4 linked regions of the Homo sapiens genome follow. The protein of the gene in region 4 purifies or fractionates together with the protein of the main gene of each other region. This does not show direct contact. Each region holds a gene or a part of one and is shown on either strand. Other genes may lie near its edges.

What was found. The genes of interacting proteins can lie anywhere in the genome.
Region 1: the proteins of SPATS2L (region 4) and RAPGEF1 purify together in Homo sapiens (affinity purification with mass spectrometry; one large-scale study listed by BioGRID and IntAct). This does not show direct contact.
Region 2: the proteins of SPATS2L (region 4) and PLXNA3 purify together in Homo sapiens (affinity purification with mass spectrometry; one large-scale study listed by BioGRID and IntAct). This does not show direct contact.
Region 3: the proteins of SPATS2L (region 4) and CUX1 purify together in Homo sapiens (affinity purification with mass spectrometry, with the first as the bait; one large-scale study listed by BioGRID). This does not show direct contact.

Annotation. Positions count from the first base shown.
Region 1 is NC_000009.12:131,628,577-131,632,076, forward strand, and holds part of RAPGEF1 (rap guanine nucleotide exchange factor 1), read right to left. Parts: intron 1,749-3,500; coding exon 1,660-1,748; intron 679-1,659; coding exon 526-678; intron 97-525; coding exon 1-96. UniProt on the Homo sapiens protein: Guanine nucleotide-releasing protein that binds to SH3 domain of CRK and GRB2/ASH. Transduces signals from CRK to activate RAS. Involved in cell branching and adhesion mediated by BCAR1-CRK-RAPGEF1 signaling and activation of RAP1.
Region 2 is NC_000023.11:154,468,281-154,471,780, reverse strand, and holds part of PLXNA3 (plexin-A3 precursor), read right to left. Parts: intron 3,479-3,500; coding exon 3,222-3,478; intron 3,119-3,221; coding exon 3,052-3,118; intron 2,959-3,051; coding exon 2,812-2,958; intron 2,726-2,811; coding exon 2,566-2,725; intron 2,403-2,565; coding exon 2,299-2,402; intron 2,094-2,298; coding exon 1,997-2,093; intron 1,805-1,996; coding exon 1,614-1,804; intron 1,340-1,613; coding exon 1,170-1,339; intron 900-1,169; exon of another isoform or gene 772-899; intron 677-771; coding exon 464-676; intron 294-463; coding exon 143-293; intron 1-142. UniProt on the Homo sapiens protein: Coreceptor for SEMA3A and SEMA3F. Necessary for signaling by class 3 semaphorins and subsequent remodeling of the cytoskeleton. Plays a role in axon guidance in the developing nervous system.
Region 3 is NC_000007.14:101,824,126-101,827,625, reverse strand, and holds part of CUX1 (Homeobox protein cut-like 1), read right to left. Parts: intron 1-3,500. UniProt on the Homo sapiens protein: May be involved in intra-Golgi retrograde transport.
Region 4 is NC_000002.12:200,477,693-200,480,228, reverse strand, and holds part of SPATS2L (SPATS2-like protein), read right to left. Parts: coding exon 2,198-2,536; 3' UTR 1-2,197.

The sequences.
Region 1 (3,500 bases), on a different chromosome or scaffold from region 4:
GAGCCACTGGTGGCTCGGCTCATGGGGGCCACCACAGCCACTCGGGTAGGGGACGGCGCCGACTGTCTTTTCTTGGGTGGCAATGCTGGTGGAGGACTGAAACAGACCGAAACGTCCAGGCAGACCAAACCACACTCACCAAAGCTCTTCAGCGTGATATTGGGGTACAGGATGTGGGGTTCTTTCATTACTAGACTCTCCACACCCAATGTTCACACTTCAACTCCTGCCTACTCCCCTCCGCCAAAATAAAACCTGTAAATACCAAATGAACAAAAAAGAACAACCCTTTCTTTTTCTTTCATAATAAATCATACCATGTCTCCCTGGGCTGAGGGCACAAGGAGGCCTTCAGGAGAGCTCAGGGTGGCCAGCGAGGGCCGGCGGGGTGGGGACAGCTCCAGAGTCAGCCTCCCAAGGGGGGCCAAGCCCTCAGCGCTGAGGGGAAAGGGCCCGAGCCCTGTCTTCCTCCCTTTCTTTCTCATTCTGCCATGGGAGGCACTGGACAAATAGGAAGGTAATTACCTATTATCAACCACCCGAATGCCAGGCAGAGGAGGCTTGGGGGGCGCGACCTCTTCATCCGTGGCATCTGGGAGGAGCTCAGTTGACTGTGACATCCCAGTCGTCTTGTTTAGGATCTCTACCTCGCGGTCTGTCAGGGGGAGCTCTGCTGGGCTGGAGAATTGGGAAGAACTTGGGGTTACAGAAGGTCAAAGGCGGGACAGAGCACACACAGGCCCTGAGAGGGTGAGGACGTGACCAGGAAGAACACAGTGGGTGAGGTGGGGCTGAAGAGCAGGCTCCCTGGATATAGAACCCTGGGGTTCTGGTTTGGTTGCTAATGAGCTACTGGAGCTTGGCTGTGCCCCCAACTTTGCACCTCAATTTCCTCATCTGAAAATGATCTAAGGGTTCTCTAAAATGCTCCAGGCCGGGCGCAGTGGCTCACACCTATAATCCCAGCACTTTGGGAGGTCAAGGCGGGCAGATCACTTGAGGTTAGGAGTTTGAGACCAGCTTGGCCAAGATGGTGAAACCCTGTCTCTACTAAAAATACAAAAATTAGCTGGGCATGGTGGCGTGCACCTGTAGTCCCAACTACTTGAAAGGCTGAGGCAAGAGAATTGCTCTAATCTGAGAGGAGGAGGCTGCAATGAGCCCAGATCGCACCACTGCACTCCAGCCTGAGCCACAGAGACTCTGTCTCAAAAACAAAAAAAAAAGCTCCAAATTTATGTTTTATATTTTTACCAGGAGCTTGGAGTAGAGATGAATATAAACCTTTACAACCATCCATGTCATCCTCAGTTTACTCTTGATCAAACAAGAGTGCTCTCAAGTCAAAGCACCCAAACCCAAGCCTTTAAAAGTTCTTTGTCATTATGAAACGAAGCTGCCCAGGAAAAGCACTGGTATGTGTCACTGGATGCGCTCACAGAAGATCCTTGGAAACAGTCATGCTGAAGGGTAAACTTGAGACAGGGCAATACTTCAAGCCTGTGTGAAATATACACACACTGCTAACCACTGAAAAAGGAATATGGGCCTCCAGCAGCCCACCCTCATGCTGCCCACCCCACCGGGCCCTATCCTTGTCAAGTGCAGACTTTGCCACTGAGCGTGACACCCGCGACACGAGGGTTAGTCAGCACCTACCCATCAGGCTTGCTGGCAGGGGAACTGGGCTTCACGGGGCTCGTCGGAGACGGACGTCCCTGCTTCTCGATGGTGAGCCTGACCAGCTCCTACCCCCACAAGAAAAAGGCAATGAGCAAAGCTCCCGTCACCACTGAGTTTCCACCAGAAGGCAGGCAGGTGCTGTCTGTCCTCTGCTGCTGAGTCTCATTTCTGTGCCTACAGATTCCCCACGCACCATAAACGCAAGTATCACTTGCCTTAGGTAATCTGCATGACTTCCCAAATGTCCCCTGCCCTCCAAAAATACCTTCATGGCATGTCAAGTTTCAAATGCGTAAAGGCACTTCCTCTTGGAAGGGGAAATGGCAAACCCCAGCCTCTCAAAATGATTGTTTATCACACAAATTAAAATACTCATCAGAACAGGTTCCCAGTCAGTTTGTTGGGGAATAACTCTGTTCCTAGTTCTCTAAAGCCATTAGATCATATGCACGATGATGGCATGGGTGGTTTCCCAAGGCGAGCTGGCCACAGGTGTGGTGGAGCTGCTAGCTGGTGGGGGTGGGGTGAGGGCTGGCTGGGATCCTTGTCAATGGAGAGGGAGTTAAGGGGAGATAACCCAGCAAAGAAATCACTTTAGAACCATTAACTGAGAAAAACAGAAAAGAAAAATAGCCTTTTTCAAATCGTAGCAAAAGAAAAAAAAGGGAAGACATAAGTGCCCATGTGTTTTTTTTTTTAAATTAGAATGCATTTTTTCCCAGTTTGATGAGTTTTGACAACTGCATATACCCAAGTAAGCGCCACTAAAAACACAAAGAACATTTCTATCACCGTCTCCAGCCAATCTGCCCCGCCCCAACTGTTTAACTTCTATTATCATAGATTACTTTTGCCTGTCCTAGAACTTGATATAAATGGAACCATATCATACATACACTTTTGTGTCAACCTTCTTTTTAAAAACAGCTTTATGGATATATAACTCATATGCCATTAAATTCACCCATTTAAAGTGTACGATTCAGTGGTTTTTAGTCTGTTCACAGAGTTGTGTGACCATCAACACAATCAATTTTAGGACTTCTCATCACCCCATAAGGAAGCTCCGCATTCCCCTCGACCCCCAGCCCCTGGCAGCTGCCAATCCATTTCCTGTCCGCACATCTTTGCCTGCTCCGTCCCCCGAGCTCAGCGTCAACAGCTGTGCTTCGTGTGGGCGAGGCGCCTGCTGCTCGCTGCCAGCAGTGTTCCCACTCGTGGATGCACCACAGCTTCTCCCTCCACCTTCCTGTTGCTGGACATCTGGCCTGGCCAGGGCCTGCATGTGTGTGATGAGGGGCTTCCAGGCTTTCAGCAGAAAGCTGTTTCCAAGTTACAGAGGAGGTGGCAGCGGATGCCAGTGGGCAACACAGTAACCAGAGACCCTGAACCAGCGGCTGCCAAGCCTCTCCAGACTCAAAAAAGCACCACACACAAAAAAGGCAGCGTATGCTGCAAATAAGGCAAAGAGTCAGTTACCATCCTTTCCAGCGCAAGGGTTCTTTCGAAAACAAAAAAACTAGAAGGTGAACACGCCGAAAAAAATATCAAACAAGAAATTTACAGATACCAATGGTCAATAATCATAAGACATTCACCACCTTGGATGGTAATAAAATAGAAACTTCCAGACATGGTAGGTGGGAGCACCACTTCAGACAGCCTCTCCAGAGGGATGACTTATCAGTATATATCAAAAGCCTTAAATATTTGCATTATGAGAATTTTGCACCAGGTGCAGTGGCTCATGCCTATAATCCTAGCACTCTGGAAGGCTGAGGCAGAAGGACGGCTTGAGCCCAGGGGTTCGAGGAGCA
Region 2 (3,500 bases), on a different chromosome or scaffold from region 4:
GAGAGCATCACCTGTGCCGGCCCCAGGCCCTGGTCAGGGGAGAGACCGTGAACAATCCCCAACCCCCACCAACCCTCCTGCCTTTGTCACTGGCTGCACCTTCAGGACCAAGTAACTGGGAGTCTGTGGGGATGACACACACCTCCTGGCGGTACTTGGTGACATAGAAATACAGCTCGTTGAGCGCACTCAGGACGCTGAAGTCGCTGGCGTGGAGGCGGGACTGCTCCACCAGGTAGGCATCCATGTCCTGGTCGCTGATGGATGCCATCTTTGCAATGTCTCGATAATACCTGTTGGGACCCTGAGTATGTCACTCAGGCGACATCACAAAAACTAGAACCCCTGCCCTCACTGCCCAGCCAGCCCCCGGGCTTCCTGCCTGTAGCTGGCCTGCCTCGCACAGGCAGCCCAGGGAGGGGCAGGTCCTGCCCTCTGCCACCCACAGCAGGGCGGAGCCCACCTCTCCACCCAGCTCTTGTAGTTGGGGATGTCCTTGGCGTAGAGCAGTTTGTTGGAGGGCGAGTCCTTCCCCAGGCGGTGCTCGGATGTAGAGCAGGAGTCCATGAAGGTCTGGGCTACCACCGACAGGCAGGCATCCGTGATGCTGTTCTTGTGGATGTCGAACACGAACTGCGGGTTCTTGATCACATTCACCCAGAAGCGCAGCGGCAGGCTGTGGACAACAGAGGGACGTGCGCCTGAGGCTCCCTAGTTAGCCCCAAGGGGCCCCTCCCATGTGCACATCTCTTTCCTGTCGGGCCGGCTCACATCTTGTCCAGAGGTGGTGAGAGCAACACATTTAGGGTGAACGGCCTTTCCTCTAAGTCTCTGCTGAACTTCTGTTCTCAATAGGGCTCAACCCCCTCCGCAGCTTCTCCTGTCACCGCTCTCACCACCTGCGACCGACCACCAGCATCTCTACCTGGTGCAAGACCCCAGAGGGCAAAGGCCTCACCACCACCATCCCACCCACCCAGGCAGTCCAGCTCCAGAACTGGACGCAACAGGCCCCTTGGCTTGATGGCACCGTCAGTGTCAACCCCAGGCCAGGCCTCATTCCCTCCTGCCTGGATGCTACTCCAGGCCCTGGGTCTCAGCAGAGCCACCAGCGTCTTCCGCCCACCAGTCTCCAGACAGGCTGCTGGCAGCCCAGCACGGGGTGATACCAGTTGCTCTTCCAGGTGTGGCGCACATCGGGGTCGCTGATCTGGCGCTGGTCCGCCTGCTCATCCAGGAAGTCGAACATGTACTTGATGGCCAGGGGCAGGGCCGAGCCCCGGTGGGCTGTGCTGAACACTGTCTCAAAGAGGTCATCCACGAACTTCTGCAGTGTGCCCTGTGTGGGGCAGAGAGGTCACAGGCTATGAGGGAGCCAGGTTGGGATGTCCCCAGAGCAGGACAGATGGAGGCAGAAAGGCTTGGCAAAGAGAGGGGCTTCCCTACAGGGCCAGTGGTCTCTCAGACAGACATGGCCTTTATCTAAGGCTCAGAGTTCCCACAGCAAAGACCCGAAGAAAGGCCCACTGGAAGCAAATGATCCATGGCCCCTCCCCTGTAAGGCCGGGACAACCTCTGGGCGGAGGCCAAGGTGGCGAGAGGCAGGCCCATACCTTGGTGGCCAGCAGCCGTGTCAGGTAGATCTCGGAGACCATCTTGCTGCCACGGTCCCCCTCGCGATGGTCGGCATGGTCGTGGTTTTTCACCAGGTGCCACAATTTGGTGCCTGTCTCCTGGTCAGGCGTAATCATGGGTGCCCGTGAGCGGAGGCTATCAGGGCTGCTGGCCGTGCGGAGCAAGCTCTCTGGAGCAGAGAATGCATGTGACCCTTAGGCCACCACCTGGCCCCTGCCCCACTCTCCCGGGAGCTCAGCAGCATGTGGGGACCCATCTGCCCTCGCTGGCCGACCCTCCGTCTACACTCTACAGAATCGATGGCACTTGGAAGTGGGGGTTCCCTCGAAGGGCACATGGCCACCACACTGAGGACACCTACCGTAGCGGCTGAGGGAGCGGGTGAAGGTGAAGGAGTTGGCCATGTTATAGGCAGACACTTGTTTGGGCACCAATGCCACCAAGGAACCGTCTGTCACCTGGAGGCCCCAGAGACAGAGGGGGGCAGTGCAGGAAGCTGAGAAGCCAAGGCGCCCCCACCCACCCACACCCAGGAGGGGAGCCCACGAGCCCAGGGAGAAGGGCGAGGGGAGCCAGGGCCACTGCTCCCGTGTCCTGCTGCAGCTCAAGGCAGGGTCCTGGCTCCCAGGTGGCCCTGGGGAGGAATGGGCCCCAACCCCTCACCTGGTAGTGGGCCAGTGAGTTGAGCCTCTTCCAGTCACACTCGATCTTGGTGGTGACATCCTCATCCTGGAGGATGATGCGAGTCATGCGGCCCTGGCGCCACTCTGTGGGCCACAGACAGCCCTTAAGATTATGCTGGCAGCCCCCAAGTGCCTGGCCCACTCCTCTTTGGAAACAGGGTTCAGGTGGGGAGCGGGAGAGCCCACGGAGGTCACACGGCACAGGAGGGTATGAGTGGGAGCCAGGAGGAGAGGGTGGGGACCTCACCCAGGTCCATGTCCTCAGCTTTGGGACGCTGGGAGTACGGAATGCCCTTGTACACAGTGTCCAGCAGCTTATCTTTGGCCTGGGTGATGCTGTCACAGTTGAGAACCTTCACTGGGACCTGGGCGCTGCCCTCGTTCTCCGGACACACGCAGTGAAGGGTCTGAGGGGAAAGCGGACTCCAGTGTCAGTCTGGGGCGAGGCCTCTCTCTGCACCCCTACCTCTGGCCCGCCTGGCCCTGCGCTCACCAGTGTCTTGTAGTCGATCTGCTGACGGATGAGCTTGTCCTCGCTCAGGGAGTATCGTGCCTCGCCCGTGATGGCATCAATGGGGCCCTTCTCCATCTGCTGCTTGATGGCACAGTAAAGCAGGAAGAGAGGCTCCCCAGCACACTCCTGCAGCCAGGGACAGGTGCACAGCTGGCTGCCTGCCTGACCACTGGCCGGTCCTCTGCCACCACCTCCCTGCCGCCCACCCACCTGGCGCACCTTCAGAAACTTATGCAGCAGGAACGTGAACCAGTTGGTAAGCATCTTCTCAGCCACTGACTCTGTCCTAGGGCAAGAGAAGGGGGCTCGGGCCTGGCAGGGGTGGGGCTTGGACAGGGGGCAGGCCCAGGCAGGACAAAGGTGTGGCCTGGATAGAGCAAGGCAGGTACCTGCGTAGCAGCAGCTTGGGGTGGTTCTTGCTCTCGAGGTTCTTCTCGATGAGGTCGGCCAGCAGTTGCTTGAGCAGCCCCGTGGCATAGTCGAGCCGGCTCTGCAGGGCCACCATGGTGAGCGAGGCCACGGTGCCGCGGTCGCGCATGGAGAAGCTGCTCTGGGCCTCCAGCGTGTGGATGAAGGTAAGCACGAACGCGCGGCTGTGCAGCAGCTGCCCGAAGAGGCGCAGGGCCTTCTCCACGTTGGGTGGCGTCTGTGGGGAGCAGGAGGTCTCA
Region 3 (3,500 bases), on a different chromosome or scaffold from region 4:
GGAATGAAAAGTTTTATGTGGGCCTGGTGGCTCATGCCTATAATCTCAGCTCTTTAGGAGGCTGGGACAGGAAGATTACTTGAACCCAGGAGCTCAAGACCAGCCTGGGCAACAAAGCAAGACCCTGTCTCTAAAAAAAGAAAAAAATTAAAAATTAGCCAGGCATGCTGGTGAGTGTCTGTAGTTCCAGCTACTGGGAGGCTGATGTGGGAGGACTGCTTGAGCCCCGGATGTCCAGGCTGCAGTCAGCTATGATTATGTCACTGCACTCTAACCTGGGTGACAGAATGAGACCCCGTCTGAAAAGGAAGGGAAAGGAAAAGAAAAGAAAAGAAGAGAAGAGAAGAGAAGAGAAGAGAAGAGAAGAGAAGAGAAGAGAAGGAGGGGAGGGGAGAAAAAAAGTTATACGTGGATTTTTGACTGTGCAGGTGGGGTAGGGGGAACAGCAGAAGGGATCAGCCCCTAATCCCCATGTTGTTCAAGGGTCAACTGTATTTTAACCAACACTTATGTTACTTTGCAAAGAAAGATAATTAATGGGACTGAAAAAGTAACACTTATGTTACTTTGCACAGAAAGATAATTAATGGGACTGAAAAAGAAACATCTATTCCATAGGTGTACCTATCAGTAGCTTTCAAAACACAGCCATTTTAATATAATCTACCTGCTTTCACTATATTAAAAAAAAGAATTAATTTTGCATTCTTAACCAGCTGAATGAGTCCTAAATCGGACACACAAGGCAGAGAGTGGGGGCCTGTGTGGCGATGGTGTGGTGGGTACCCAAGGGATAATCAGGGCAGAGGGAGGGAACCCAAGCTCAGAGGGGAGCCCTAGAGATCCCCGGCCACCCCACGACTGTTCTGCTGGAAAGCCCTGTCTCCCACACCTCCCCAAGCACACAGAACTCAGTGGGCGCCCCCTGCCCACTCCCCGACCCGCCTTCCAAGCCCTTCCTGCAGCCTTCCCAGAGGCTCAGACACACTGCTCCATCCATCCCAGCCTCGTCCTGCCAGTCCTGTCCGCCCTCTAGGCGGGAAGCCACTGCTATTTTAAGTCTCCATCACTACTGCCGGGCACACAGGGGCAAAAGAAAAAGGAATGCATGAAATAGGCTTGAAGGCCGGGCGCAGTGGTTCACCTCTATAATCCCAGTACTTTAGGAGACCAAGGAGGGAGGATTACTGGAGCCCAGGAGCTCAAGACCAGCCTGGGGAACAGGGCAAAACCCTGTCTCTAAAAAAAAAAATGGAAAAATCAGCCAGGCGTGGTGGTGCATGCCTATAGTCCCAGCTACCCGGGAGGCTGAGGTGGAAGGATTGCTTGAGCCCGGGAGGTCAAGGCTTCAGTGAACTATGATCTCACCACTGCACTCCAGCCGGCAACAGAGCAAGACCCTGCCTCAAAAAATCAAAAACAAAAAAAAACAAAAAAATTCTGAAGTAGGCTTGAAGCTCAGATGTACAGAGGGAGGAGGAGGGAGCTCCCCCAAATAAGCAAGATTCTGGAGTCATTCTAGCTGGGATGGAAAAGGTTTAGGTGGGGCAGAAAGGACTATCAGGAACTCTGTCTGCTACCCTAAGAAATGTGGTCTCCACTCTGTGCCTAAGTGGGCCACCATGGATGTTTAAGGAGAGGAATGGCATGATGAAATCAATGGTTCGGGAAGATTAATCTGGCAGCTGCATTTATAATGGATTGCGACCTGTTTCGAATGGGCAGTTTTGAAACAAGTAAAAGACGACGCACTCAGCTCGTGTGTTAGAAAGACTTGGCTCTCACACACAATAAGCAGCCCCGAAGACTAACTGCGCGCGCGCGCGCACACACACACACACACACACACACACACACACACACACACACACAGATTTCATTAAGGTATCAGGGCGTTTTAAGATGACAGCATAATTATATACCAACACAGAGCCACGTAAAACAATCACAAACTACTTCTTACTCCCCTGACAATGACATTCAACCATAACTGGCAATATCCTTCCTCTCCCAGTCCCACATCGATGCTGACAAACTGCGGGATGACAAACTGCGGGACCAGGGCTGAGGACCAGGTGGAGGGGAAGAGATGACCAAGCCTTCCCTCTGGGACGGCCAGCTCCGGATGGTAGCTTTACGATTCCGCAGCACAGCTCTCCAAGGGCCCTGGCCACCTTGTGGTCCTCCAGGCTCATCGGTGACTGCAGGCTCCTGGATCCCATGGAGCAGAAACCTGAACTTGTCTCCCACTTGGCTGAGTGACGAGACAGCATGCGTTACTGTGTAAGCAACGAGTTGAGATACGGCTGAAATAAAGCAATTCTGGTAAATGAATGTTTCTATGCTGGTTTAAACACATGCTCCTCTGCTCTCAATTTTCTGTCTCAAACCTGTATGACTTATAACATCTCTACTGTGTGAATAGGAAGGGAAGATGGGATTTGATTAACAGCTCTGGTCGTAATTTTAGCTGTAATCTCTGTATGTTGGGGACTCCAGCCCTTTTTCTTTTGAAAGGTTGGTATTCTCCGGGCGGTTGCTGACTACGCTCTCGGCGAGGACACAGCAGAACTGTATGCAGCAGAAATAATTCACTGGACCCAGGACTGCATGGGTTCAAGTTCTGGGTCAACTACTTGGTGAAAAACAGAAAATAATATGTTTCACCATTATCTGCCACACCTTTCAGAGTGACACAGAAATGGTGACGGGAGCCACAGAATGTTCCCAGTTCCAGAGGGAGAACGAAAGTCTTTTCCAAACCTCATCAAAAACGTTACATGTATACGATTCCCTCCAGCGAGAATTTTATTTTTAATTTTCATTTACATAGTATCTTTCTTCCAAGAATCTCAAAATAATGGAGCTGTAGAAATACTTGTTTAAAAAAAAAAGTTGTCACAACACAGGAAGGGACAGGCTTGGCAGGGCAGGAGAAGGGCGAGAAGTGACAGGCCGTCCTGACAGCAAGGGCTCCAGGTAACACCCGGAGGCTAGGCTGAGGGCGGCTCCAAGCCGGCCCTTCCCTCACTGCAGCCCACGGCTTTACCAATGCTCACAGCTTCAGGCTCTTCAAGACAAAGATTTACCTTTGGTATCATCTGCTACCTTTTATCAAATTATTTTTTATCTAAATAATCATTTCTTCCCTAGAAACAGGAGGGGAAAGTGGTAATAAGCCAGAGAAACTTACAGGCCCAAAACAACAACTCAACAAAGGTGTCTAAAAAGAGTGGAGGCCAGGCACGGCGGCTCACACCTGTAATCCCACCACTTTGGGAGGCCGAAGGGGGTGGATTGCTTGAGGTCAGGAGTTTGAAACCAGCCTGGCCAACATGGTGAAACCCTGTCTCTACTAAAAACACAAAAATTAGCTGGGCGTGGTGGTGCACACCTGTAATCACAGCTACTCGGGGGGGCTGAGGCACGAGAATCACTTGAACCTGGGAGGTGGAGGTTGCGGTGAGCGGAGTTTGTGCCACTGCACTCCAGGCTGGGCG
Region 4 (2,536 bases):
TTTCTTAACCCTAAGGGAGTGAGTCGAGGTCAAGAGTGGTTGGGTTCAACTCTGACAAAGGCAGGTGAACTCCTGACCTGGCAAATTCATTTTTTTCCCTGTTCCAAGAATTACTTGACTCATCTTTAAAGCGGTCACATTTACACTGACATTTTTCAGTGGTGAGCAAAATCTTGCTACATAAAAAACTGTGCAAAATCCTTCCGTCTTGTAATATATGAATTCAGGGCCTCAGATGGGGTAAACAGGGCCTACAGTGCCGAACATTTATCTTTCTTATTTGAACGAACAACTCTTCCTTCCTTCCTGGAATGTGACTTAACGTTAAGAATTTCTATTAAATCTCTGGGTACACCCAGAGACCTCAGAAAGCTCTCTACAGAGAGAGCAAACATCCTCCTGTACTTGGCAAAAGAAGAAACAGATGCTTGCGTGGCTTGCAGGCTCAGCTGCTCAGGGCCGCTCTGTGGAAGAGAACCAGTGAACCTGGGTTGCCAGAAAAAATGTTAATGTTGAGTTGAGAATAAGCATTTGCACTTGTGAGTAGTCAACAGATATGTAGGACATGTGAGTGCAACGGAAGCGGCACCCAAACTGGACTGCCCTGTAGTCAAAGTTAGGGGAACTGGGGCTATTTTGGGTTTGGGCCATTGGGTATCCATTTTCCCTTTCTGAGAAGTACCCCTTCTCCATCTAGCTCAGGAACTCTGGGAAGATGGCCACACCCAGGCTCCAGGGGTGGGCTCTAATTAGTCTATGCAAATTAGTTCATCCCATTCACTTCTCTCCCCCCTTTCATGATTGGTTTAAGAGACAGGCCTACCAGCAATGGTATGCAAGACCTTTGCTGGGATTTCTGAGAAAGACACTTGCTCTGTGTAGAAGCTACTAGGATAACTTCTCTCCTCTGGACAGTGTGGAAAATAGACTTGAGTCTTAAGAGCATGGTGGCCCTTTGCCACAATTCTGAATGCAATGTCAACCCAAGGAGGAAAGGAGAGCTAAGATAATTAAGAGATGGGAGCTGGCCGGGTACGGTGGCTCATGCCTGTAATTCCGGCAGTTTCGGAGGCCAAAGCAGGTGGATCACCTGAGGTCAGGGGTTTGAGACCAGCCTGGACAACATGGTGAAATCCTGTCTGTACTAATAATATAAAAATTAGCAGGGCGTGGTGGCACATGCCTGTAATCCCAGCTACTCGGAAGGCCGGGCAGGAGAATGGCTTGAACCCAGGAGGCGGAGGTTGCAGTGAGCCGAGATCATGCCATTGCACTCCACCTGGGTGACAAAGCAAGACTGTCTCAAAAAAAGAAAAAGAAAAAAGAAAAAAAAAAAAGAGATGGGAGCTGAAATCCTGATCAAATTGGACCAACTGGACTTTTCACTCACTGAACCAATAAATTCTTATTGTTGAAGCTAGGCTCAGCTGAGGTTTGTAGTACTTGCAACCAATGTTTCCAACTGCCCAACTGCCACATGGTGTGTCTAAGATGATCAGGGTGCATATCCATCTATTTGTGTAATCTAATTGAAAGGGCATATATATATTTTCCTGAAAGAGTACTTGTCTCAACAGAAACAGTATTTATTGTACACAGCTTTGCACCACAACCTCTAGTCTCTAAAGTTTTTTTTGAAAGCACTAAACAGTACATTCAATAACTAGGTGGGTATCAATAAAAGAAACTAGCCAGGTGTCAAATGCAGCATATTTTAATTTGTTTCAAATAAAGCAATATATGTATATATATTTTTTCAGAAAAACACCAGATGTTAAATTCTACAAAAGCGCATGTGTCCTCAGCAGATCATGTTTGTCTGATTATTAAGAATTCTTTTTTGTAACATTAACTCTCTAAAGACAATCAATGGACTGACATCACTGCTACAACACAGGTTGCTAACTGAGCCTCTGATCTTCAGCCACATCTTGATTTTCCTAATAATGAGTAAATACTGCCTGGCTAAAATGCTGCAAAGTCTTGATGAGAGAAAGCATCAACAGATCAAGCAAAGCCATGAAAATTATGAAGCAAGCTAGAGCTGATTATTAGAATTAGTAAAAATGATTAAGAGAGGATGACACAACCATACGGGATTTGTATATTCTGATTGACACTCTTTTGGCAGCGAATTGGGTCAGCACCTCGGGCAGGGAACCAAAACTGAGTGAAAACTGCTCTTTTTCCTCCTAGCTCAGGCCACCAACGTCACAGCCGGGACTGAGAGAACTGCTGCATCTGTGGAAACTTCTATTCTCGTGGGGCAGAGATTGCACTGTGAAACCCTACCGACACTACCCCGGAAGGGCCTGGCCTCCGAGGTGTCTGCAGCGTGCTGCCTTCGCCGGGGCTTTTCAGAATGGGCCGGGGCCTCGGGGGTCTTCATCCCCAAGGAAGCCTCTTGATTTTTGGCACCGCCTTTGTTTTTGGGCCGGAAGCCGTTGTGCGGCTGTCTTCTGTGTTCGTGGCGGCTGTTGCCCTTTCCCAGTGGCTCGGCTTCATTCCCACTGCCCTGCGACTTGGCAGGCCCATT